Linked DNA regions of Homo sapiens: regions 2 and 3 are each linked to region 1. Evidence: fine-mapped expression QTL. A gene starts in region 1. Each other region holds a variant in brackets. All regions are shown on one strand. Distances are from middle to middle.

Region 1 (2,500 bases):
GGAAACACTATCAAAACTAAAAGGGAACTTGTAGGGCATCTTAATCAATCAACCAAGATAGGTACCAAGGCCCAAAACCATGTAGAGGCTTGTGCAAGATCACAAGCAGAGGTGCAATTTGAAGCTAGATTCTCCCACTCTTAAACTAGTGCCGGACAGACGAAGGCCTAGCACATGGGCTACGGAGCCCTAGTAGATTCCAGTCCCCACACTGAGCCAGGAGGGGTCGCTGCCCAGGGATACCTACAGCCATACTCGAGCTGGACAAGGCGCACGCTCTTTGTGGAAGCAAACACGTCCACCACCGCGTAGAGGGGCTGCGCAGCTGGCAGTCCCCGGGCGCTCGGGCCCATGTCCTCGCCGTTGATGATGATGTGCATGTCGGCCGTGCCATCGGGGCGCGGGCAAAAGAGGACACCCAGGCGGCTACGGCGCGCGGTCGGAGGCAGCACGTTCAGCTCATAGAGCTGGTCCAAGAGATGGCTGTAGAGCCCTGGCCGGCTGCGGCCCACCAGGCGGTCCCGGGGAATGCGAAACTGCTCAATGCGCAGATATGGTTCCACGAGGAGGGTTGGAGGTCGGCTGGGGGCCGCTGCCTCCGCCTCCGGGCGGCCCTCCCGGGGCACGCGGTTGTGGTGGCGCGTGATGGCGAAGACCCAGGTGTGGCCCAGGTTGACCAGATCGGGCAGAGAAAACTCGGGAACGGGGGCCAGACTGGCGGGGTCCAGCGCGGTCAGACCGAGACGCAGATGTCCGCACCAGCCCAGCTCTTTCTCCTCGATCTCGACCAGGAAGACCTGGCCCGGGGCCAGCGGCTCGCGGCTGAAGCACACGCCGTGGGCGAAGCTCTCCACGCGTGTGGCCCGCGTCCCAGAGGGGTCCACGCGGATGTTGGCACCGTGCACCCGATGGAAGCGGGTGGGAGGGGGCTCCGGGCGCTCGAGTCCCCAGAGTGCACCCGAATCCACGGGCTCGGAGGCAGCAGCCATCTCTCGGCCATAGGGCAGGCCAGCTGGCGCCGGGGGCTATTTTGGGCGGCGGGCAATGATGGTGACCGCAAGGCGACCTTGTAAGGCATTTCCCCCCTGACTCCCTTCCCCGAGCCTCTGCCCGGGGGTCCTAGCGCCGCTTTCTCAGCCATCCCGCCTACAACTTAGCCGTCCACAACAGGATCATCTGATCGCGTGCGCCCGGGCTACGATCTGCGAGGCCCGCGGACCTTGACCCGGCATTGACCGCCACCGCCCCCCAGGTCCGTAGGGACCAAAGAAGGGGCGGGAGGAAGACTGTCACGTGGCGCCGGAGTTCACGTGACTCGTACACATGACTTCCAGTCCCCGGGCGCCTCCTGGAGAGCAAGGACGCGGGGGAGCAGAGGTGAGCTGGCACCGGAGGCTGGAGGGGATCCCCGAGCCCGGGATCGGTGCGCGGCAGAGGAGGCTCGCGGGTGGGAGCTGGCGCTGGGGCCGGGGCTTCCCTCGCGGAGGCGCCGCCAGCAACTCCCCGGGGGCTGCTGCACGGAAGCGCTGAGGAGCGAGTCAACAGCCCCTCTGCTGCCTCCCGTAGATGATCCGAGCCGCGCCGCCGCCGCTGTTCCTGCTGCTGCTGCTGCTGCTGCTGCTAGTGTCCTGGGCGTCCCGAGGCGAGGCAGCCCCCGACCAGGACGAGATCCAGCGCCTCCCCGGGCTGGCCAAGCAGCCGTCTTTCCGCCAGTACTCCGGCTACCTCAAAGGCTCCGGCTCCAAGCACCTCCACTACTGGTCTGCCGCCCTGCCTTCTGGGCGGGATTGGGAGAAGAGATGACGGATGAGGGATGGGGGGTAGTTCTGCAGACCCCTGAGGATGCCTGGGAGCCGGGAGGGCTGGAAAGGGCCCCTCCAACTGCGCCAACCCTGCCCTGACCCCCCTCCCAGGTTTGTGGAGTCCCAGAAGGATCCCGAGAACAGCCCTGTGGTGCTTTGGCTCAATGGGGGTCCCGGCTGCAGCTCACTAGATGGGCTCCTCACAGAGCATGGCCCCTTCCTGGTGAGTGGACAGCAGGGGGAAAGCACAGTTCCCAAAGTAAAAGGCTGGGGAAAGCGAGAGAGGGGCTTTGTGATTTTCCAAAAAGTTTCCTTCCTTCTAAGCCTCGGGATTTTCCTCTATGCCATTGGCTTTGCTGCCTGTACCTCTCAGAGGTTTTACCCACATGTAAAGTGCCTCTCATGGTGGCCCTTTCCCTCCACCCAGCTGGCCCTTGGGACTTACTCAGCCATCTCTTTCCTCCTCAGGTCCAGCCAGATGGTGTCACCCTGGAGTACAACCCCTATTCTTGGAATCTGGTATAGCTGGAGCTGTGGGTGTGTCTGGGCACTTGGATGGGGTGGCATTTAGCTAATTTTTCCCTCCCCTCTAGATTGCCAATGTGTTATACCTGGAGTCCCCAGCTGGGGTGGGCTTCTCCTACTCCGATGACAAGTTTTATGCAACTAATGACACTGAGGTGAGTCTGGTGCCTGCC
Region 2 (2,842 bases), 23 kb after region 1:
CTCCTGCCTCAGCCTCCCCAGCAGCTGGGGCTACAGGCGCACGCTGCCACGCCCGGCTAATTTTTTTTGTATTTTTAGTAGAGACGGGGTTTCACCGTGTTAGCCAGGATGGTCTCGATCTCCTGACCTTGTGATCCGCCCGCCTCGGCCTCCCAAAGTGCTGGGATTAAAGGCATGAGCCACCGCGCCCGGTCCACTGGTGGATTTTTTAATGAACCCTTGGAGCAAGGTGCTCTGAACAGCATCCCCGCCCCCACCCCCACCCCCACCTCCATCTACTGCTTACAGGGTTCCCGGACCCTAGGACAGGGCACAGAGTGGGTGCTTGCCACCTTTTTGTTGCCAAATGGACGAAAGAAAGGGGAAGCAATAATCATGTCTGCTGAGCATGTATTTAGCACCAAACACTCATCTAGGAAGGATGACTAACTCATCCTGATTTGCCTAGGACTTTCCCCATTGTGTCTTTTTTTTCTGATATAATCCACAGATTCACAAAAATAGTTCCATTTCCTTTTTTATTTAATTAATTAATTAATTTTTTTGAGACACAGTCGTGCTCTGTCACCAGGCTGCAGTGCGGTGGTGTGATCTTGGCTCACTGCAACCTCTGCCTCCTGGGTTCAAGTGATTCTCCTGCCTCAGCCTCCCAAGTAGCTGGGACTACAGCCATGTGCCACCACACCTGGCTAATTTTTGTATTTTTAGTGGAGACAGGGTTTTGCCATTTTGGCCAGGCTGGTCTTGAACTCCTGCCCTCAAGTGATCCGCCTGCCTTAGCCTCCCAAAGTGCTGGGATTACAGGTGTGACCCACCATGCCCAGCCTATTTATTTATTTTTATTTATTTATTTAAGATGGAGTTTCTCTCTTGTTGCCCAGGCTGGAGTGCAATGGCGCAATCTCGGCTCACTGCAACCTCCGCCTACCAGGTTCAAGCAATTCTCCTACCTCAGCCTCCCAAGTAGCTGGGATTACAGGCACCCACCACTACGCTCAGCTAATTTTTTGTATTTTTAGTAGAGATATGGTTTCGCTATGTTGGCCAGGCTGGTTTCGAACGCCTGACCTCAGGCAATCCACCTGCCTTGGCCTCCCAAAGTGCTGGGATTACAGGCGTGAGCCACCGCGCCCGGCCGCCTATTTATATTTTTAGAGACAGGGTCTTGCTCTGTTGCCCAGGCTGGAGTGCAGTGGTACAATCACGGCTCACTGAAGCCTCCACCTCTTGGGCTCAAGCGATCTTCCCACCTCAGCCTCCTGAGTAGCTAGGACTA[C/T]AGGCAGGTGGTACCATGTCATGTCCAGCTAAGTTTTGTATTTTTTGTAGAGACAGGTCTCACCATGTTGCCCAGGCTGATCTTGAACTCCTGGACCCAAGTGATCCTCTTGCCTTGGGCTCCCAAAGTGCTGGGATTACAGGCGTGAGCCACACATCCAGCCATCCCCATTTTGAAACCATTCCTGGGAACCCACTCAGTCCCTGGGAAACCTTACAACTGGTCATCCGAATTCTAGGTAATTTATTTAACCTTAACAACCTGTCAGACTGGCACTATTATGAACCCTCTTTAACAGGAAGTAGAGGTTGAAGCAATTCTGTGGCTGCTATTAGGGAATCCGTAGACTGTTCATGGAAGAGTGGAAGGTGGGCTTTATAGCCCGGTAGTTATGTACTTAGACTCTTGTGTCTGACAGACAAGAGTTTACACCCCAGGTTGTCAGTTCTTAGGTGTATGACATTGATCCCTTGCTTAAGCACTCAGATCTTCAATTTCCTCATCCTAAAATGGAAACAATAATTTAAGGTTATTGCAAGAATAAATGGGCCTGGTACATGACACATCATTAGTGCCAAATAAATGCTAGCTATCTTAATTAGGGGCACATACCACGAGCAAACAAAGCAGAAAAGGTGTAGAGGGAGAACAGAGAAAGTGTTAAGAGTATCCAGAGGAGGAAGTATCTGTGTTCCTTTGAACTCTAGTAACCTTCCTAGAGCCTGGCTCAAGCAGAAAACCTGGTGGATGTTAGTTTTCTTTCCTCTTATTTCCTTTCTTTTCTTTTTTTTTTTTTGTGGGGTGGAGTCTCGCTCTGTCACCCAGGCTGGAGTGCAGTGGCACGATCTCGGCTCACTGCAACCTCCACCTCCCAGGTTCAAGTGATTCTCTTGCCTCAGCCTCCCGAGTAGCTGGGACTAGAGGCGCCTGCCACCATGCCCAGCTAATTTTTGTATTTTTAGAGACAGGGTTTCACCGTGTTGGCCAGGTTGGTCTCGAACTTCTGACCTCAGGTGATCCGCCCGCCTTGGCCTCCCGAAGTGCTGGGATTACAGGCATGAGCCAGTGCACCTGGCCCTTTTTTATTTTTTTTTAACAACAACAACAAAATACATTTTATTTATTTAAGATAGGGTCTCACCATGTGCTCAGGCTGATCTCCAACTCTCGGGCTCAAGCAATCCTCCCACCTCAGCCCCCCAAGTAGCTGGGACTACAGGTGTGCACCACCATACCTGGCTGTTTTCTCTTCTTTTCTTTCTTTTTTTCCCTCTTTTTTGAGAGAGGGTCTCATTCTGTTGCCCAGACTGCTGTGCAGTGGTGCAGTTACGGCTCACTGCAGCCTCAACCTCCCCAGGCTCAGGTGATCCTCCCACCTCAGCCTCCTGAGTAGCTGAGACTACAGGTATGTGCCACCATACCCAGCTAATTTTTGTATTTTTCACAGAGATGAGGTTTCACCATGTTGCCCAGGCTGGTCTTGAACTCCTGAGCTCAAGAGATCTACCCACCTCAGCCTCCCGAAGTGCTGGTGTTACACCACATCTGGCCTTTCCTCTCGTTTTC
Region 3 (2,842 bases), 28 kb after region 1:
CAGCGTGGGATGGGCTCTGGCAGCCTCCTCGAGTGCTCATCACCGGGCTTGAGACATGGAGAGAGCCAAATCCCCAAATCCCTTCCCACTTTCACTCCTGGTTTTGTTGTTGTTTGTCTTTTGAGGCAGAGTCTGGCTCTGCCTATTAAGCTGGAGTGCGGAGGCACAATCTTGGCTCACTGCAGTCTTGACCTCCTGGGCTCAAGCAATCCTCCCACCTCAGCCTCCTGAGTAGCTGGGACTATAGGCATGCACCACCACGGCTGATTAATGTTTGTAATTTTTTTTTTTTGTAGAGATGAGGTCTCACTGTGTTACTCAGGCTGGTCTCCATCTCCTGGCCTCAAGGAATCCTCCCACCTCGGCCTCTGAAAGTGCTGGGATTACAGGCATGAGCCACTGCGCCCGGCCTCATCCCTGGCTTTGAAGAGAGAAGGAGAGGCTTCCCAGCACTCAGAGGGACAGGAAGGAAGTGCCTTTCCAGCCTCAGTTGTGTACCCAGCACAGCAATACTGGTAAGAAATCAAGATAGCAAAGTCCTGCTTCTGCCTTTTTCTAGAACAGATGTCAGCAAGCTGTTCCTGTAAAGGAATCAGGATAGCAAAGTCCTGCTTCTGCCTTTTTCTAGAACAAATGTCAGCAAGCTGTTCCTGAAAAGGCCAAAGTGTACATATTTTAGGCTTTCCACACCCTGTGGTCTCTATCGCAGCTGCTCAGCCCTACACTTTAGCATGAAAGCAGCCATAAACAATATCTAACGAACAGGCTGGGAGCTGGAGTTAGCACACAGGCCATAGTTTACCAACCCCTGTTCCAGAGGAAATGAAAAATCTCTTTCTGGGCTAGGCATGGTGGCTCATGCCTATAATCTCAGTACTTTGGGAGGCTGAGGCAGGAGGATTGCTTAAGCCCAGGAGCTCGAGGCTGTAGTGAGCTATGATTGTGCCACTGAACTCCAGTCTGGGTGACACAGCAAGATCCTGTCTCTAAAAAAAAAAAACACTTTTTGAACCTCAGTTTCCACATCTGTAAAATGGGATGATCTAGTACTTACCTACCTCCCTGGGTGGCAGTGAGGATTTAAAGTGATAAAGTATACAAAGTGTGGAACCTAGTACTTGGTGGCGGGGTGGGGCGCTCTCACTTTGTTGCCCAGGCTGGTCTAGAATTCCTGGGCTCGAGCGATCCTCTCGCCTTGGCCTTTCAAAGTTCTGGGATTACAGGCATGAGTCACTGTGCCTGGCCTGATTATTAGTATTAATAGTTGTCATAGTTGCTTAACAAACAGAAAGTGCTTTTTTGAGACAGGGTCTCACTCTGTTACCCAGGCTGGAAGGCAGTGGCACGATCATGGCTCACTGCAGCCTCATCCTCCCTGGGCTCAGGTAATCCTCCCATCTCAGCCTCCCGAGTAGCTGGAACTATAGG[C/T]ATGTACCACCATGCTCAGCTAACTTTTAAAATTTTTTTGTAGAGATAGAATCTCACTGTGTAGACCAAGCTGATCTCAAACTCCTGGCCTCAAGCGATCTGCCTGCCTCGGCCTCCCTAAGTGTTGGGATTACACGCGTGAACCACCACACTTGGCCAGAAAGTGCTTCCACATATTAACTCACTTACACTTCATAACATCCTACAAGATAGGTATCCTCACCCCCAGTTTACAGATAAGGAAACTGAGGCCCAGCAGTTATAAGCTCAAGTCAGTCTGGCCCCAGAGCCTATGCTTGTAACTAGGTTTCTCTCTCTGTCTCTCTCTTTTTCATTATCCCATGTAACTCTCACAGCAGTGCCTTGAGATAGCTATTATTGGCCCTGTTTTGCAGATTTGGAAACTGAGGTTCAGTACGAGGAAATAACTGGTCCAAGGAAGTAAACACGGGCTCCACTGACCACAGGAGGCCAAGCTGGATTGCTGCCCAACATGTCAACATGCACTGCTCTGGCCCCCTCCTCCCTCGCTGTGCCTCCAGCTGTGTTTTCTTTGGATCTCTGCATGGCTTGGAGAAGCTGCGTCAGCCCATCTCCTCTCCTGCCCAGTCCCCACCCCCAACGCCCACCCCAGCTACCCCTCAGGGAGTGACCCCCTTCTCCTCACTCTGCCTGAGCATATGAGCACTGCAGCTCATGCGCCTGTGTTGGTCAGCATGGGTGCACCTGGGGACATGTGACAGGGGACCCAGCTGGAATGAGAGGAGGATTATCTGAGGAGGACAAATCTCAGGCCAGGAAGACCCCGATTACATCTCTCCAGACAGGCGAAATGATCATCTGTTTCCAGAATGCAACTGGACAAAACAGTCCGCGTGAGGGCTGGACATTTACCAAATGGGTAAAAGGAATCTAAAAGGGCTGGGGCTTGCTGAGTTCAGCCAGGCCAAAGCTGTGGACTGACTTTCCGTGATTTCTAAAGCTGGGAGATCTGTTGTTTTCTTCTTTCTTTCCCATTTCCTCCTTGAAGGCCAGTCCATTTTCTGTGTGAAGAACAGGCCACTTGGTGTCTGAAGTCACCTCCAGATTAGAAACTCAAGGATTCTAAGGTTCCTTATGAGGTGTTGCTTTCCCTGGGTCCTCGGTCCTAGGGCATTGTATCCCCACACCTGGTGCCTCTCCATCAGGGCTCGGATGTCAGCCTTGGGCAGCTCACTCTCTCTCTGACTTCCCTTTTCTTTTCTTCTTCATATCCCACCCTTCTTCCCAGTTTCTATGCCTCTGTCAGTCTGCTAGCTGACTCTGACTCATGGGGACCTCTTTCTGTGGTCCTCTAAGCCTCCTAACCGTCTGTGCTTTCCTTATACTCCACGTGGGCTTTCCAGCCTCTACTTGTTTTGAGGAAGAGGTGGAG

Which allele goes with the higher level. Positions count from the first base shown, and alleles are read on the strand shown. Sizes are in standard deviations (SD) of each study's normalised expression. Not every link is listed here.
For the expression in visceral fat of the gene that starts at base 1,333 in region 1, allele T in region 3 goes with a higher level than allele C (small effect, 0.28 SD a copy in GTEx).

The links. PIP is the estimated chance that this variant, and not a neighbour inherited with it, causes the effect.
Region 2: its variant is the best candidate, but not a certain one, in a credible set for the expression of CTSA in whole blood (GTEx, PIP 0.71).
Region 3: its variant is the best candidate, but not a certain one, in a credible set for the expression of CTSA in visceral fat (GTEx, PIP 0.70).

Annotation. Positions count from the first base shown.
Region 1 is chr20:45,890,003-45,892,502 of GRCh38, forward strand. It overlaps CTSA (cathepsin A), which reads left to right and starts at 1,333. Exons shown (of 15, transcript NM_000308.4): 1 at 1,333-1,377; 2 at 1,567-1,760; 3 at 1,914-2,025; 4 at 2,271-2,321; 5 at 2,396-2,482. The coding sequence starts at 1,567. NEURL2 (neuralized E3 ubiquitin protein ligase 2) reads right to left here and starts at 1,206. Exons shown (of 2, transcript NM_080749.4): 1 at 248-1,206. The coding sequence starts at 989. It also overlaps a transcript of SPATA25 not described here. RefSeq lists enhancers at 671-1,380, 1,620-1,669 and a silencer at 1,310-1,579.
Region 2 is chr20:45,912,917-45,915,758 of GRCh38, forward strand. No RefSeq gene overlaps it. Among named protein-coding and RNA genes, the nearest start is that of PLTP, 2.2 kb to the left of the region's middle. The variant C/T (reference allele first, on the strand shown) is at 1,277.
Region 3 is chr20:45,917,903-45,920,744 of GRCh38, forward strand. No RefSeq gene overlaps it. Among named protein-coding and RNA genes, the nearest start is that of PLTP, 7.2 kb to the left of the region's middle. The variant C/T (reference allele first, on the strand shown) is at 1,429.